Regions from separate parts of the Homo sapiens genome. Here region 2 is linked to region 1. Evidence: fine-mapped expression QTL. Tissue or cell type: whole blood. Region 1 holds a variant in brackets; the other region holds the start of a gene. All regions are shown on one strand. Distances are between the middles of the regions.

Evidence for each region. PIP is the estimated chance that this variant, and not a neighbour inherited with it, causes the effect.
Region 2: it holds the start of LTAP1, and the variant in region 1 is fine-mapped to the expression of LTAP1 in whole blood (TOPMed, PIP above 0.99).

The regions. Positions count from the first base shown.
Region 1 is chr1:154,263,495-154,271,596 of GRCh38, reverse strand. It overlaps UBAP2L (ubiquitin associated protein 2 like), which reads right to left. Exons shown (of 27, transcript NM_014847.4): 25 at 5,029-5,096; 26 at 2,643-2,840; 27 at 750-1,397. The coding sequence ends at 1,302. Among named protein-coding and RNA genes, the nearest start is that of HAX1, 5.1 kb to the left of the region's middle. The variant C/G (reference allele first, on the strand shown) is at 4,817.
Region 2 is chr1:154,215,785-154,223,886 of GRCh38, reverse strand. It overlaps LTAP1 (lipid transport auxiliary protein 1), which reads left to right and starts at 3,297. Exons shown (of 7, transcript NM_001098616.3): 1 at 3,297-3,545; 2 at 3,950-4,051. The coding sequence starts at 3,480. It overlaps UBAP2L (ubiquitin associated protein 2 like), which reads right to left and starts at 2,932. Exons shown (of 27, transcript NM_014847.4): 1 at 2,912-2,932. RefSeq lists silencers at 2,759-2,908, 3,769-3,838 and enhancers at 2,429-3,176, 3,159-3,598, 3,177-3,924.

The sequences.
Region 1 (8,102 bases):
CATCCCCAAGCCAGACCTTGCTCTAGATTCTTTTTCAAAGAATTGGGTATAGCTATGTCACAGAGAAGCATCCAAGAAGCCACTACTACAGTAGTCCATTCCTAGGGGGAATGGGCCCCAAGGTTTTGTTTTTTTATTTCGTTTTTGGGGTACAGGTGGTGTTTGGTTACATGGATGAGTTCTTTAGTGATTTCTGCGACTTTAGCGCACCCATCACCCGAGCAGTGTACACTGTACCCAATATGTAGTCTTTCATCCCTCACCCCACTCCAAGATTTAGTTCTGCCAGACGATACATGTTGCCTTCACTTCTTTTTAGTTTATTTGCCTGGACCCATCTAAGTCATACTTAAAACTCTATAAAGCATTTTTTTTCTTTGAAATGGTCTCAGCTCCTTCTTGATCCTCTCCATTTTCCACCCAATCTCCTCTATCCCTCTCCCTTTACTGCCTGAAATCGGCTGTAGATGTAGCAGTTTCTGGAGGAAATGAAGATTTGTGGTGGTTCTTTCCAGTCACCAGGTTGTGAAAGTCTTAGGGGTGAGGGGAAGGAAATCCCCTCAAGGACAAGATACTACTACCACATTAAGGTCAGGAGTTCTTAAAGGGCGAAGATTTCATTTTATTCCACTGCCTTCAGGGGCCTGCTAGAGGAGGCCCAGTTGGTACAGTAATACTTATTCACCAAGCTGGTCATCGACGAAATTGAGGATGTCCTAGACGGAGCAAGAATAGGCAGAGGCTGAAGGTAGAGGTTTTCTTTTTATATATACAAGACACATTAATCCATTAAATTTGAGGACACAGTACAAAAAAAAAAAAAAAACAAAAAAAAAACCACTTCAACTAATTCATCTGACAATGCTGTTCATATTCATGACGCCATTTTTTTGTTTGTTGTTGTTGTTGTTTTCCTAATAATAAAGAAGGAGACTTAGGGCTGTTGGGCTGATATATGTTTGGGGGTCCCACCTCCCCGCCTCATCCGTACACCACCAGGGTGAACAGGAGGAAGCAAAGGAAGTGCAGGGCCCATAGCAAAGTTTCATAATCTTGAATGCAAGAGGGGAGAAGGAATGGAAGGGGGAAAAAAAAGGAGAAAATACAAATCCTATAATACATACAACAGGGTGGGGATGGTATAGGAATGGGACAGACATGAAGCTGAGGCATGGGGTGGGCCGCTGGGGGTGGGGGGCAGCGGAAACCCCCCACATTCCTTTCTCTTTGATGCTGTTTCCATAGTTTCCAGGCTGAGAAGCCCTCTCAGAAGATGGGACCGGGAGAAGAGGGTCAGGGCCTCAGTTGGCCCCCCAGCTGTAGCTGTTGTAGGCAGACTTGTTGGTCTGGGGCTTCTGCGGGATGGAGCTGGTCTGGCTACGTTGCCCGCTGCCCGTCTGCAGGGGAATGGGAGGATCATGAGGAGGAAAAAGGTGTCTAGTTAGTGGTACAAATTTGTAACATCTTCAGGTGGAGATGTGCAAACTGTCTTGCTCTCCCATTCCCCTCACTACTATTAGAACCATAGAAAATTTGGTCTGCATAGCTGCTAAAGCCCCTTTCTTACAAGCAGGAAGGCATTTTTGACTTTTAAATAGGGAAAAGATGAAGAGGGCAAGATACCTTTAGAGACAAGGTAGTGAGTGAGTTCTACTCATTTTCAATTCTACATTCTCACACTACCCCCTCTCTCCCCTGCTCTTGGAGATGGGTGATCACAAGGCAATTTCATTTCCATTGATCCCCATTAATGCCTCAATTTGGAAAGCTGTCTTTGAGGAAGGAAGCCCTTATTCTAGCTCCAGCCACCTATAATGGAGCTCTCAAGAGGCCACTTGCATCGCCCCACAGATCCCCACCCCTACCACACATCACATCTGTGAGCCCATTTCAGGCAGGTATGAGAGGCAGTCTGAGGCCTCAGGCTCCAGATGCTGCCCCAAGAATCTTTTCCATTCTGGTAACCGAATGTTTTCCACAGCTGGGGAAGGGTACAAAGATAAAGAGGGTGTTGGGGAGGGGAGGAGGAGAGAGGAAGGGGAGGCCAGAGAGCTCAGCAAGGTGTTTGTGTTTGTGTATCCCGATTTGTGACCGCGCAGTCTTTTCAAGTTCCCTGAGGCTGTGAAGGTGAAATGGGGACTGAAAAGGAGTGGGTTCAAGCATATGATCATTCAATTTCATTACCTGCTCCTCCTGCTGGCGCTGGCAACAGAGAATCATCTGCAAATATGGTAGCTGAGGCAGAACCAGGATATATGGAAAATAAAGGGACAAACTTTGACAATAGAACTCCACCATTAGAAGGGAAAGCTAAAATGTCAGGGAAGAGGGAAGGCTGGGAGAGGAAAGAGGGAAGGTGTGACCCAGGTCTGATGGGATGAGGACAACTGTGGCACAGGAGGAGAAGGGCACCAAAGGAATTGGGCAAAAAAGGTTTCAACCCGGCCCTTCTCTGAGATTTCCTTTGCCGGCCGCTCGTGTTATGTGCGCTTGTGTCTGTATGTGCTGTGTGCCCATGACTGGCGCTGGGGAGGGATTGGGTGAAGGTGGTGGTGAGGAAGGGTAAGAAAAGGAAAGGGAAGGCAGTTTTAAGGGATAGGAAGGAAGAGGAAGGGAAAGGAGAGAAGGGGAAGGGCTATTACCTGGCCATCCTGCTGCAGGTGATGGTGAAGGATCTGAGAATGCGGCTGCTGATGGGGGGTCAGAATGTGCATAAAGGGGGCAGGTGGGTAGGCAGCAGCTGTGGCCGGATTGATGGGGCCCCCACTTCCTAGGGCTGAAGGCAAGTTGAAGGAAGCAGCAGGAGTACCGGAATGAAAACCTTGTTTCTCAAAGGACTGCTATCCAGGAGGCCAGGAGGAGACAGAGTAAAAGGGATCAGCAAACTAGTCTTGGGATTTTTCCTGAGCTCAAGCTCCCTGACCCTCAGAAAGCAGCATGGTGTCACAGAAGGCACAGTACACTTGAAGTCACATATTCAGGTCTCAGTCTCAGCTCTGCTCTTATTTAAGAACTGTGTGAACCTGGGCATACTACTCAATCTCTTAGCCTCAGTTTCCTCAGATATAAAACAGGGATGCTACAAACCTGTTGTAAAGACCAAATAGGCTGGGCATGGTGGCTCACATCTGTAATCCCAGCACTTTGGGAGGCCAAGATGGGTGGATCACACAAGGTCAGGAGTTTAAGACCAGTCTGGCCAATATGGTGAAACCCCGTCTCTACTAAAAATACAAAAATTAGCCGGGCATGGTGGCGGGCGCCTGTAATCCAGCTACTTGGGAGTCTGAGGCAGGAGAATCACTTGAACCTGGGAGGTGGAGGTTGCAGTGAGTCAAGACTGTGCCACTGCACTCCAGCCTGGGAGACAGAGGGAGACTCCATCTCAAGAAAAAAAAGAAAAAAAAAGGCTGGGCGCAGTGGCCCATGCCTGTAATCCCAGCATTTTGGGAGGCCAATGCAGGCGGATCACCTGAGGTCAGGAGTTTGAGACCAGCCTGACAAACATGAAGAAACCCCGTCTCTACTAAAAACACAAAATTACCCGGGCATGGTGGCACATGCCTGTAATCCCAGCTACTTGGGAGGCTGAGGCAGGAGAATCGCTTGAACCCGAGAGGCGGAGGTTATGGTGAGCCCAGATCGCACCATTACACTCCAGCCTGGGCAACAAGAATGAAACTCCGTCTCAAAAAAAAAAAAAAAAAAAAAAAAAAGACCAAATAAGAGGATGGAATGTGGAAGCACTTTGTAAAACTGAATGTCATATGTGAACATCATGAAATCCGAACTTAGAACTCCAGGCTGGGCATGATGGCTCACATCTGTAATCCCAGCACTTTTGGGAGGCTAAGGCGGGTGGATTGCTTGAGCCCAGGAGTTCGAGACGAGCCTGGGCAACATGGCAAAACCCTGTATCTACCAAAAAACAAAAATACAAAATACAAAACAAACAAAAAACAAAAATACAAAAATTAGGCAGGCCTGGTGGTGTACACCTATAGCCCCAGCTACTCAGAAGGCTGAGATTCCACCACTGCACTCCAGCCTGGGTGACTTCTTGAGACTGTCTCCAAAAAAAAAAAAAAAGGCAAACCAATAGTGTCCCTACCCCTTCCAATATTCCTTACAAAAATAGTAACTCCGCTGGGTGCAGTGGCTCACGCCTGTAATCTAGCACTTTGGGAGGCCAAGGTGGGCAGATCATGATGTCAGGAGTTCGAGACCAGCCTAGCCAAGATGGTGAAACCCCGTCTCTACTAAAAAATACAAAAATTAGCAGGCGCGGTGGTGGGCACCTGTAATCCCAGCTACTCAGGAGGCTGAGGCAGGAGAACCGCTTAAACCCAGGAGGCAGAGTTTGCAGTGAGCCGAGATCACACCACTGCACTCTAGCCTGGGTGACAAGGCAAGACTCCATCTCAAAAAAAAAAAAAAAAAAAAAACTCGTTGGATATTTCAAAAGAAATAAACACATACTGAGATATTTGAAGTGCTGAAGGTCTTGTGCATGAAGTGCCCCCCCAGACCCCCAGTGCTTTATAGCAAACTTTAAGTATTTATGGTGATGGGGGATAAAAGCAACATAACAAACCTGTGGATCACTCAAATGCTTCATTAGTTACTAGGTCGTCTCCTTTCCCACTCCCACTGTTATAGATTTACTCAAAGAATGGAATGAACTAGTTTCCTGTCACTCTCATACTTATTCTCTTGAAAAGTTATGAAAAAGGTTGGGAGTAGGTAGGAAAAGGGGCCAGGAGAGTTGCACAGTAAATTACATGACACGATAAACAATTTGCCACGCTTTACCTTC[C/G]TATTACGTTTCTCGTTTTTTTTCTCAGAGGGCTAAATTTTAACTTCTTAGAGGAAGTGAAGTCTAGAGAAGACCTTTCATTTAGAAAAAGTAGGATGGGTTTCCTGCCACCTCTCCTAGGGTTCTTCTTGTCCACTGTTATTTCTACCATTGCAACTCCACCTCCTCTATGTCTATCTCTTTTCCACTTTTATCCAGAGCCAGGCACCTACCTGGGTTTTGGAGTACACAGAACCCGAGATATCTGGCACGCCCGTGTTACTGGAGGTGACTGAAACACCTGGGGGAGGAGGAAACAGACAGGAGGATTAGCTCAGCTAGCTACCTGGCCCTTATTCCTGAGATGAGGTGATATCTGTAGCCTTTCTAGCTATACCAATGCAAGGGAATTTTGGTCGGTTTTCCAGCTTCAAGTTAGTCCTGAGAGGTAAGAGTTCATGAAACAAAAGCTCCCTAAGGGTTCTTTGGCCCTTCCCAGGTACGTGTTGAGTATACGTGAGAGAGAGTGAGGTAAGTTGTTTTTTGGTGGGCAAGGGGATATGACCAAACCTCACTAGCATACACTGTTTTCAAAACACTTCTGTGCCAAAGTCTAGCAGGAATATAATAAACTTTTAATTTTAATGTCCATTTCAAATCAATCCACCCAAATGCCACTCAGTTTTATTCCTGGAGACTGGGGCAGTCTGGCCCTCTCTCTTCCTGAAGTGACATTTCTGGGCTCAAAATCCATGCCTCCACTGCATAAGTACTAGAGGAGCAGTCCACTTTAATCCCCAAGGGCACTCTCATTCTCAGAGCCTCAGCTCAATTAGTCCAGCTTCTTTAGTCTTGGAGCATCTAGGCTAAATCTTCAAACTTAAGATGTAAAGGTCTAGTATCAAGATCAATTTCCATGTACACAATTTAAGCCTAAGTGTAGCGGGGTGGGGAGGGATAGGTAGACAGGAGTAGGCCATCTCCTATAGCCTAGGTGGAACACAAAAACCACGTCATTTTCAGTATACAACTTCAGCTTCTCCGTAAGATAAAAGCTCTCATACCCCAACTCTCATATTTCCTGTTGAAAAAAACTCCCTACTAACCACTACAACTTTAAAGAAACCAGAGTAGTACAACATGTCATTCTAATTTGTACTCCTCAAACAAATAAATACTCATACTATATTCCATCACCTGGGGTATAAGGCATCGGGTCAAGAAGATAGGAAAAGCCATGAAATAAATAACCTAACATCTTTTATACTTTCCATTTTGAAACAAAGATGTGAAGAAAAGTAAGTAATTTAACTAGGAATATAAAGCATGATTTTAAAAAGATATATTAGTTTTTATAAAAATAAAACAAAGCTTCAGAAAAACTTTGCCTGTCTATGCCCTTGGATCCTTCCCATCAGAGGTACACATTTCCTTCTCCTCTGCTATCAGGAACACTGATGGAAAAGAGTTTTAGAAGCAGTGTACTAGAGTGGCCAAATCACAAATAAGGAATCCTCCATTCACCCACAATTCAAACTCTAGAACCTAAATCCTCCCAATGCCTCAGACAAAGGCAGCCTTCCAAAGTTAAGCCCACCTTGAACAGTCACTTTTGAAGTGGTATCTTAATCTGGAAAACCTTCCCAACATCCTAAGTCCAGATAGTTCCTGGGAGGGGCAAACACTAACTAGGAAAAATAACGGAACTACAGAAAACCAAGCAAGAGAAAATACTTCCTCATCTCCGAAGCATCAACTGTCTAAAGACACTGAAGTAAAAGAAGGGAACGATACAGGAGTATCTTAAAGGGCTAATGGGGTATTTTTTCCATTCCCTTTTCAAACCCGAGGTGCCCATCTGGCAAATCACTGAGTAACAGGCATAACTTTTAAGAATAGGAAGTTCAGTTATGGAAAAGGCTTAAGCTAGTAAGTTCATGTGGAAGGGTGGAGAGTAAAGGTGGAATAAACAGGATATAAGTAGAACATTTTTAAGTCAAACCAAAAGAGAGAATTTATCTTTACTGCAAAGGCAAAAAAAAAATAAAAAAATAAAAAATAGCATAGTTGGTCACCTTCTGCAGTGAGGCTAGGCTGCCTATATTGGATGGAAGAAATGACTAACTGGATTCTCAAGCCGAGTGGTAGGGAGGAATTCAGCTCCAGTGTGCCCCTACCTGATCTCATTCTTTCCAGAGTTTAGGCTAAAAACAGCTTCTAGTCCAGAGGCCTTATCTTTGATATGAGGTTGAAGGGACTGAGAATGCAGGAACCATAATACTCTGTAGTAGCCATAATAATCTCAATTACAGTATTAGAGACCTAGAAAATAATGGGTACTGATTTCACTACCCCTCACCAGTTATTAGGAAGATCTTCAGACTACAGAGTTCTCTTGCTTTCCTTCCAACATCAACACCCCCTACTTATCCCCAAACAGTGACAATACCAGAATCACGTGGGCAGCAGGGCAGAGACACATGAATCTATCTCTCCCACCATGGCAGCCCCTGGGAAAGGTGGTCACACTCCACAGAGCAAAATTACTCCAAAGGGCTGGGAACAAATACAAGGAAAGCTGAATACTTTGGTTTCTAATTCACCCAGGGTGGTGATCTCACTGTCCACGTTAACTTTATAAACAAAGGGCTAATGTTGTATGCTAGCTGGACTGGGAGGGAATTAGAATTTCCATAGTCAAGGAGATATCTGACCAAACCGCTCCTGCACATCCTTAGCTTATACCCACAAATGCAAAACTGGTAATCCACGATCTCTGAAAAGCCATCAAGGGACTAAGAACAATGTTCCAGGATAGCACAGTCGCCACAGAGCCTGAGTCATCAACTAGCTTATCACTAATGACTTTATCAGATCTTAGCCACTTGGCCTTTAGGAACCAGATAGATGTGGGAATTAAGCCTTGAAAGATACTTCTCTAACAGCTCTGAAAACTCTCTCTTTTGCCTTTCACCATGACATGACACTCCAAACTTTTTTGTCCTTTCCCCCACTGCTTATGTAAGAGGCAAAGGAAAGATCTAAATGGAAAAATGAAGCAACATAAGCATGGAGAATCAGGTATTTCTACAAATAGTTTCCTTTACCAACTAATCAACAGGTGGGAAACTGAGGCTGTTTCCCCTCCCCCCACCTTCATAAAACCACCATACTGAAAAATTAATAGTTCTTTGGCTATGCTGGGGTTTGATTAAAAAGGCCACCCTCCACCCTTCATCCACAGCACAGCATTGGTTCCTAGTGTCCACAAAGACATGCACGGAAAGAACGCCAGAGTTAGCTAAAG
Region 2 (8,102 bases), 48 kb after region 1:
TAGACTGCCCAGAGATATTACTGGATTTGAGTGGGAGGAAGGACTTCTAAAGAAATATGCAAGGATTAACTATTAGGGAAGTGAATTTCATCTGACTTTCTTGGATGTCACAGAGAAAGCTGACTTTTTCTGTGCATAAATTCTTCACCAAGTTGCGTCAATAGGTTGCATAGGTCTTTGTATCAAGAAAGATTTTTTTAAGGTAGCTTCTCAGGTAATTTTTAACCCATTACCTCTTCCCCCTACACATATTGGCACACAAAAGCCCATAAGTATTTCAAGCTAGAAAGGATTATTTGCTACACAGTAGCCCATTTTCCCAGGTTAGCATTATAGTCGTTTCAACTTTACAAAAAAAAAAAATGTTTAACCAAGTACCCCGAATCCAAATCAACAAGACTACATATACACATATATACGTATATATATAAAGACGAGAGGAAAACTATTTTGTTTTAAAATTGGCTCTAAGATGAAGTTTCTAATATGGCATAGTCATTTCCAACCCACTACTGTAACTTACAAATATTGACTGTTTTCTACTCCACATGTGATATCTATTTGTGAGGATAAGTTATATTGCAGGTATAAACTGCATGACTAGCTATACACTATTGCATATACTGTACCAGTCAGATGTAAACATATTAAAAAGTCATCTTGAAAGATATAATTAACCAAGAAAGAAAAAAATTCTCCTAATCACTCTTGCTAGTAACATTTCCCTCTTACAAGTGCTTCGAAATGTGACTAAGAAAATTTTTACCACCTAGTAGTGACAACACTGAGCAACAGGTCAAAAGTAAGTGATCTGGAATGGATCACTTGAGGGCACAGAATTAGTAGCAAGCAGACCCATTCCCAGCTATCACACTGGAGATGAAGAATCTTGTTACTTACTTGCTCTTTCTTAGAAAATAAAAAGATTTAAAGGAAGTAGGGTGAGAAGTATTGGAGACCAAGGAAATCGTGCGAGAGTAAACAGAGGTTTCAACACAGGAGTGCCCTTGACTCTTTTTTGAAAACTAGCTACTTAAAAAAATAGCCAGAGAAATTTCACTGAAAAAACTAAATAACAAATATTTATTGAGAATCTACTATGTGTCCAATACTTCAGGAAAATACAAAAGCAGTATGACTTAGTAGCTGCCCTCAGGGAGCTTACAATCTAATTTAAGAAACAATTCAGAAACTGAAGCTAGACTGAGTTGGGTAAAATTTGCTACCTCTAACAGAACAACTAATTTCTGTAGATGCTTTGTTGAAATGGCCCCTGCATCCCCTTCCCCACCACCTTGATATCTAGTTAGTAAGAGTACTTCCCAGTTAGGACATAGCAAGGAGGAGCTTTAAAGATGAAAAACAAAACAGGACATTTTTAGGCCTTTCATCACTAGTTTATGTGCCAGCAATATTTCCCATTCACAAAGGAAACAATCATTGAGATAGTCTAATCTTTAAGGACAATGGTGTCAGATCTCAAAGCAGTTTTATCAACTGATACACAGCCAAAATGTTTTAATTCTCTGTAATCATTGGGATAGTCTAATCTTTAAGTACAATGGAGACAGATCTCAAAGCAGTTTTATCAACTGATACACAGCCAAAATGTTTTAATTCTCTAGAAACGCTGGTTACTAGTAATGTCCATCACCTCCCAGCAAGTCACATCAGGTATCCCCAAAACAGGATATGCGGCGGAGGAAGGTAGGATGGGAGAGAAGACAAAAAAAAAGGATTTCTCCATTTAATAATCAGGGAGAGTCAAAGGCAAAAACGTTAACAATAATAACAAAAACGCCTGTTACTGTGGTGTTTTTCTTTCCACAACATCCTACACCAGAGGTGGCTACATTTCAAGAATGGTGGAAAAGGAGCAGTCTCCAGTTTGTGACATCAGTTTGCAAAGCAATTTAAGGGCTGTCCACAAGGTTAAGGGTTTGAAGAAACTGGGCATTCCTGTACCATTATGAGAAGAGTGAACAAATACCCCAGTGCTCTAGTGACGTCCCTTAAGCGTAAATACACCCTATGGGGGCCTCCATGTCCAGCTTCCCAAATAACACAATTGTTTGGGGTACCCAAACTACAGTATAAACAGGAAGCTAAAGACAGCAGCAAAAACATATTCCAAGAACTGGGTTGGTGAGAAAGAAGGGAGGGTAATAAGAGGAGCTGACAAAGAGCCTGGAAACGGAGAGGGGACGCAAGCCCACGGGTGGAGGATGGGAGGCTCACCCCCCTCAGCGCCACATCGAGAGCCCACGGGGCCAATCTCCTCCCTACCTCCCAGCCGGAACAAATTAATCCTTCGCACACCAAACTGAGGGCCACATGGGGGAGTTTGGGGGAGCTCCACCCCATCGCCCTCCCTCCCCCACGCCACCCCCAAACCAGGCCGGATCCGGATCAGAGGAGGCCCGCAGTGGGTGGAAAGGGAGGAGGCCCTCTCCTCCGCAGGCACCGGCCGGGGTGAAGAGAGAGCCCTACCTCAGGCAAGGCCCAGGCCTCGCTCGCTCGCGCTCTTTCTCGCTCTCCCCTCTCAGGCTCTAGCCGCATGGCCCCCCCTTCCTACGGCTGCTCCAAGCCCCGCCCCGGCCACGCTCCCAAATCGAGGCCCCGGCTCTGGCGCGGCCCACTAGGCCGCGAACCCAACCATAAACAAAACCTCCGGGGGCCGACTCGAGGTGGGGGGCGCCAGGGCTCGCATGACTCGGGGGGGGGTGTACAGTGGGGGAACACACGGTGTGGGGGGGCCTACCGAGGGAGGGGATACGGCGGGGGCAGGGGAGAAAAGAGGGAGGGTAAAAGGGGGATCGCGGATTTAAAGGGGCCGCGGACAATACCCGGCCCCGCCGCGCTGCCGCTGCCGCCGCCGCCGCCGCCAACGCCGCTGCGCTCCCAACTTTACCTCAGTCTCCTCCACACTGACACCCCGGGCCGCGCCGCCCCTGTCACGTGATATAAGATTCCCTCTTCCCCACCCCCTCCCTCCTTTTCCCTCTCGCGCTCGCTCTCGCGCCTTCCCCCGCCCACTTGCCTTCCTGCGTCCCTCAGCGCGTGACGCTAAAAGGGGCGCGCACGCAAGCGTGCGCGTGCCGCCTCGCCACGAGACACCTCTTTCCGGCTCCGCGAGTCCACCCCGCCTCCTTCACGGCGGCCCTGCCTCCACCACGTGACGCACGGATGGCCGCCGCTTCCTCTTACTGTCGTAGTTCCGCGTCTGAGCGCTCGACGCTCCTGGGTGCCATTGCCTGCCTGAGTCACGTGTCAGGGGGAAGCTGGAAGGCGTCGTTCTCCTTTCCCAGCTCTCCTGCCTGTCCGCCATGTTTTCAGGCCGGGTCTGGCTTGGTCTTCCCCCGTAAGGAAATGGCCGGGGAGCTCCAGGGGACCCAGGCGCCGTCGCTTCGGCGGAGCCTGGGCTGACCAGCCAGGACAGCGGGGTAAACCCGAACAATTCTGCGCGAGGTAGGGAGGCCATGGCGTCCGGCAGTAACTGGCTCTCCGGGGTGAATGTCGTGCTGGTGATGGCCTACGGGAGCCTGGTGAGGAGATTACCCCACCCCATTCCTGCTGTCGCATCTTACCCAGTAGAGACCCTCCTTTTGAGCTGTACCCCGTCTGCATTCTCCACCCACTCACCTGCGCCTATCCGGGCTTTGACTCCTTATTCCAGGAGTAGGTGGGAGTTTAAGTCACTTAGTCGGGCCGACCCGCCCTCGTTAGTCTAGAACCCTCCCTTTAACGCTAGAGCACAGACCCCACGCCTCCCTGCTGCTGGCTTCTTAGATCCACCCCCATCATAACGGCCTTGCTTTGCCCCAAGTTTTACCCTGAAACATTCCTGAGAGCCGGAATCTGGGGATTTGGAATGAAGGCATGCTTTTTTAAAAAAAAAACAAAACAAAACTGACTTTTTATTAAAGGATTTTTACATCTTTTTGGACAGGTGTTTGTACTGCTATTTATTTTTGTGAAGAGGCAAATCATGCGCTTTGCAATGAAATCTCGAAGGGGACCTCATGTCCCTGTGGGACACAATGCCCCCAAGGTAGGTCCTTAGGGCACAAGTTAAACATACTTCTCCAGATCTTTTAGGGTCAAGAATGAGATTTCCTCTGCCTTTAGTGATGACTTTAATTCTCATGTTTCTTTGCGTGCACTTGTCCTTGTACTTACTAAGTTGAGCAGGCACTGTGCGCTTTGGAACTTGGCTTACCTGCTCAGTGCTGTGGCAAGCATGTGGCTCATCCTGGAACTTCTGTTTTTGTATCTGCAGAATGAAGGGCTTGGGTCGAAGTTCCCAACTGTTTGTAGTAAAATATTTCCCAGCTCATCTTAAACTACCCAGTGTTTTTTGTTTGATTAGGATGGGGTTGAGATCATTAAGGTTAACCCAAGAGCAATGAGAAGGGTTACCTTTACATAATTTTAGACTTAAGAGGAGCTCCATAAATCATCTAATTCCACCATTCATGTTACCAAGAAGCCCAAGAAAAGGAGGCAGTTTACCAGAAGACGTATAGGAAGTGAATAACCCAGTGGTCTTTTATCTTTGTCTGTACTTTCTCCTTAGGTGACTGTCTTCCTTTCCTTGGCTTTAGCTACAGATGAAATTTTATCTCTATCCTAGAACTCTTTCCTGAGTTCCTTACATATATTGCCAACTGATTACCTGACATTTCCACTTAGATTTGTAGTAGACATCTCAAACCCAACATTTGTGAATCAGAATTATTGCTATCCCACTGCCACTCTCATTCTGCTTCTTTAGTCTTTCGCTTCTAAGTAAAAGACACCTGCTTCCCTTACCAACCCCCTTTTGTGTGGCTCTCCCCAGATCACTGGGACCCAGCTCCACTGGCTGAATTTTCCACCCTTTTTGCTCCTGTGATCTGGAATGGTCTTCAATTGGCTAGCTCATTCATTCTTTTGATCTTAGCTTAAATGTTACTTCCAAAAAAGGAATGCTTATTACCTATTTTAAAGTAGGTTCCCCCTCTCTTTATTTTCACATGGTACCCTGATTTTTCCTTCATAGCATTTACCATAATTTTTATGTTTGTCCATTTGTTTAAAACATGCCTCTCTCTTCCGCTAGACCGTAAGCTTCAAGAATGCAGGCACCATGCCAGTTTTGTTCACGACTATAAAGCCAGGACCTACACATAGTAGGTACTCAGTAATTTCTTGTTGAATGAAAAACAGGTTAGTGCCAGGGCCTACACATAGCAGGTACTCTGTAATTTGTTGCTGAATGAAAAACAGGTTAGTTGTAGAGCTAGAGCTCATGACTCCCTCAACTCCTAGAGCACTGTACTTTCATTAACAAGTGCTATTAACCTTCCCCTCTTTGTTCTTTGCTGACATAGTACATGAAAAGGCTCTAGGAGGATGTCCTGGCTTGAAACCTTAACAGTCCTGCCTGCCTCATGAGAAAGACATAGGGTTAGTTTCTAGCACATCATGAACCAATCAATACTTTGGCTATTCAGGGGTCCCTTGGTCTAGTTCAGAGCAATATTCCTTTTGCTTAAAAATTTTTTCTAAATTCTCAACCATTGCTAGTGAAAGTATAAATTAGTAAAACCACTTTGGAAAATAACTGGTCATTGTCTGGTAAGATTGCACATGTACCTAATCCATGGTCCAACAGTTTCTCTCCTACCATAGAGAAATTAAGTTTTGCTCATGTGTACCAAGAAACATGTGCAAGATTATTTATAGGGGCATTGTTCATAATATTTGAAGAAGAAACTTAATTCAAATGTCCACTTTTCAATTATTATATAGGCTGAGTGCAGTGGCTCATACCTGTAGTCCTAGCACTTTGGGAGGCTGAGGCCAGAAGATCATGTGAGCCCAGGAGTTACAGACTGCAGTGAGCTATGATTGCACTGATGCACTCCAGCATGGGCAAGAGCAAGACCTTGTTTCTAAAAAATAGGTAGTGGTATATTCATATTCTGGAATAGTGTAAAAAATGAAAAACTGAAGATAAATATATGAAGACAAGTCCTCAAAATACTTCTGAATGAAAAAAATTGCAAACATGAATCTCAAAAACATGCTGAGTGGGCCGGGCATGGTAGCTCATGCCGGTAATCCCAGCACTTAGGGAGGCCGAGTTGGGCAGATAACACTTGAGGTCAGGAGTTCGAGACCAGACCAGCCAACATGGTGAAACCCAATCTCTACTAAAAATACAAGAAAAAAATCCTAACTACTCGGGACGCTGAGGTAGGAGAATCCCTTGAACCCAGGTGGCAGAGGTTGTAGTAAGCTGAGATCAAACCACTGCACTCCAGCCTGGGTGACAGAGCGAGACTCTGTCTCACCAAAAACAAAAAAACCATGCTGAGTGAAGAAAGCCAAAATGCCGTTCACAAGAGAATATGTACCATGTGCTTCCACCCCATTTATATGAAATTCTAGAACAGGCAGAACTGTAAAAGAGTACATCATGTTGCCTGGGCTGGGAGAGGGGAGATTTCCAGGTGATGAAAATATTCTTTACTTTGATTGACGTGGTGGTGAAGGGGGTATGTTCATTTGTCAAACTCATCAATTTATATACATAAAATGAATGCATTTATTGTATGTAAATTCAACCTCAATAAAGTATATTTGAAAAATTTTGCTGGGTGCGGTGGCTAACGCCTGTAATCCCAGCACTTTGGGAGGCTGAGGCAGGTGGATCACCTGAGGTCAGGAGTTCAAGACCAGCCTGGCCAACACGGTGAAACCCCGACTGTACTAAAAATGCAAAAAAATTAGCTGGGCGTGGCGGTGTGTGCCTGTAATCCCAGCTACTCAGGAGGCTGAGGCAGGAGAATCACTTGAGCCCCGGCGGAGGTTGCAGTGAGCAGAGATCACACCATTGCACTCCAGCCTGGGTGACAGAGTGAGTCTCTGTATCAAAAAAAAAAAAAATTTAAGGCCAGGCGAGGTGGTTTACACCTGTAATCCTAGCACTTTGGGAGGCCGAGGCAGGCTGATCACGTCAGCTCAGGAGTTCGAGACCAGCGTAGGCAATATGGGGAAACCCTGTCTCTATAAAAAGTTTAAAAATGGGCCAGGCGCGGTGGTTCACGCCTGTAATCCCAGCACTTTGGGAGGCCCACATGAGAAGATCACAAGGTCAGGAGTTTGAGACCAGCCTGGCGAGCATGGTGAGACCCCATCTCTACGAAAAATACAAAAAATTAGCTGGGCATGGTGGCATGCGCCTGTAGTCCCAGCTACTTGGGAGGCTGAGGCAGGAGGGCAAGGAGAATTGCTTGAACCCAGCAGGCAGAGGTTGCAATGAGCCAAGATCATGCCACTGTACTCCAGTCTGGGTGACAGAGCAAGACTCCATCTCAAAAAAAAAAAATGTTTAATAATTAGCCATGCATGGTGGTGTGTGCCTGTAACCCCAGCTACTCAGGAGGCTAAGGCAGGAGGATCATCTGAGCTCAGGAGGTGGAGGTTATAGTGAGCTGAGATTGTGCCATTGCACTCCAGCCTGGGTGACAGAGTGTGACCCTGTCTCAAAAAAAAAAAATTTTTTTTTTAAACAAGTTGCAGAGGGATTCTTAAAGTATTTTTCCATTTGTATCAAGTTGAAAACCAGGCAAAGCTAAGCATCTTTTTTAGGGTGACACGATAAAACAGTGAAGAAGTGTATGAGGACTATTGACAAGTTAAGGTTTGGGGTGCGGAGCATTCAATGAGGGATGGGCACACAAGACTTGAAAGTTAGTGGTAGGGCCGGGCGCGGTGGCTCACGCCTGTAATCCCAGCACTTTGGGAGGCCGAGGCGGGTGGATCATGAGGTCAGCAGATCGAGACCAACCTGGCTAACAAGGTGAAACCCCGTCTCTACTAAAAATACAAAAAATTAGCCAGGCGTGGTGGCGGGCGCCTGTAGTCCCAGCTACTCGGGAGGCTGAGGCAGGAGAATGGCGTGAACCCGGGAGGCGGAGCTTGCAGTGAGCTGAGATTGCGCCACTGCACTCCAGCCTGGGCGACAGAGCGAGACTCCGTCTCAAAAAAAAAAAAAAAGAAAGTTAGTGGTAATGTTCCATTGCATAAACTGGATATTGGTTATAGGTGTTCAT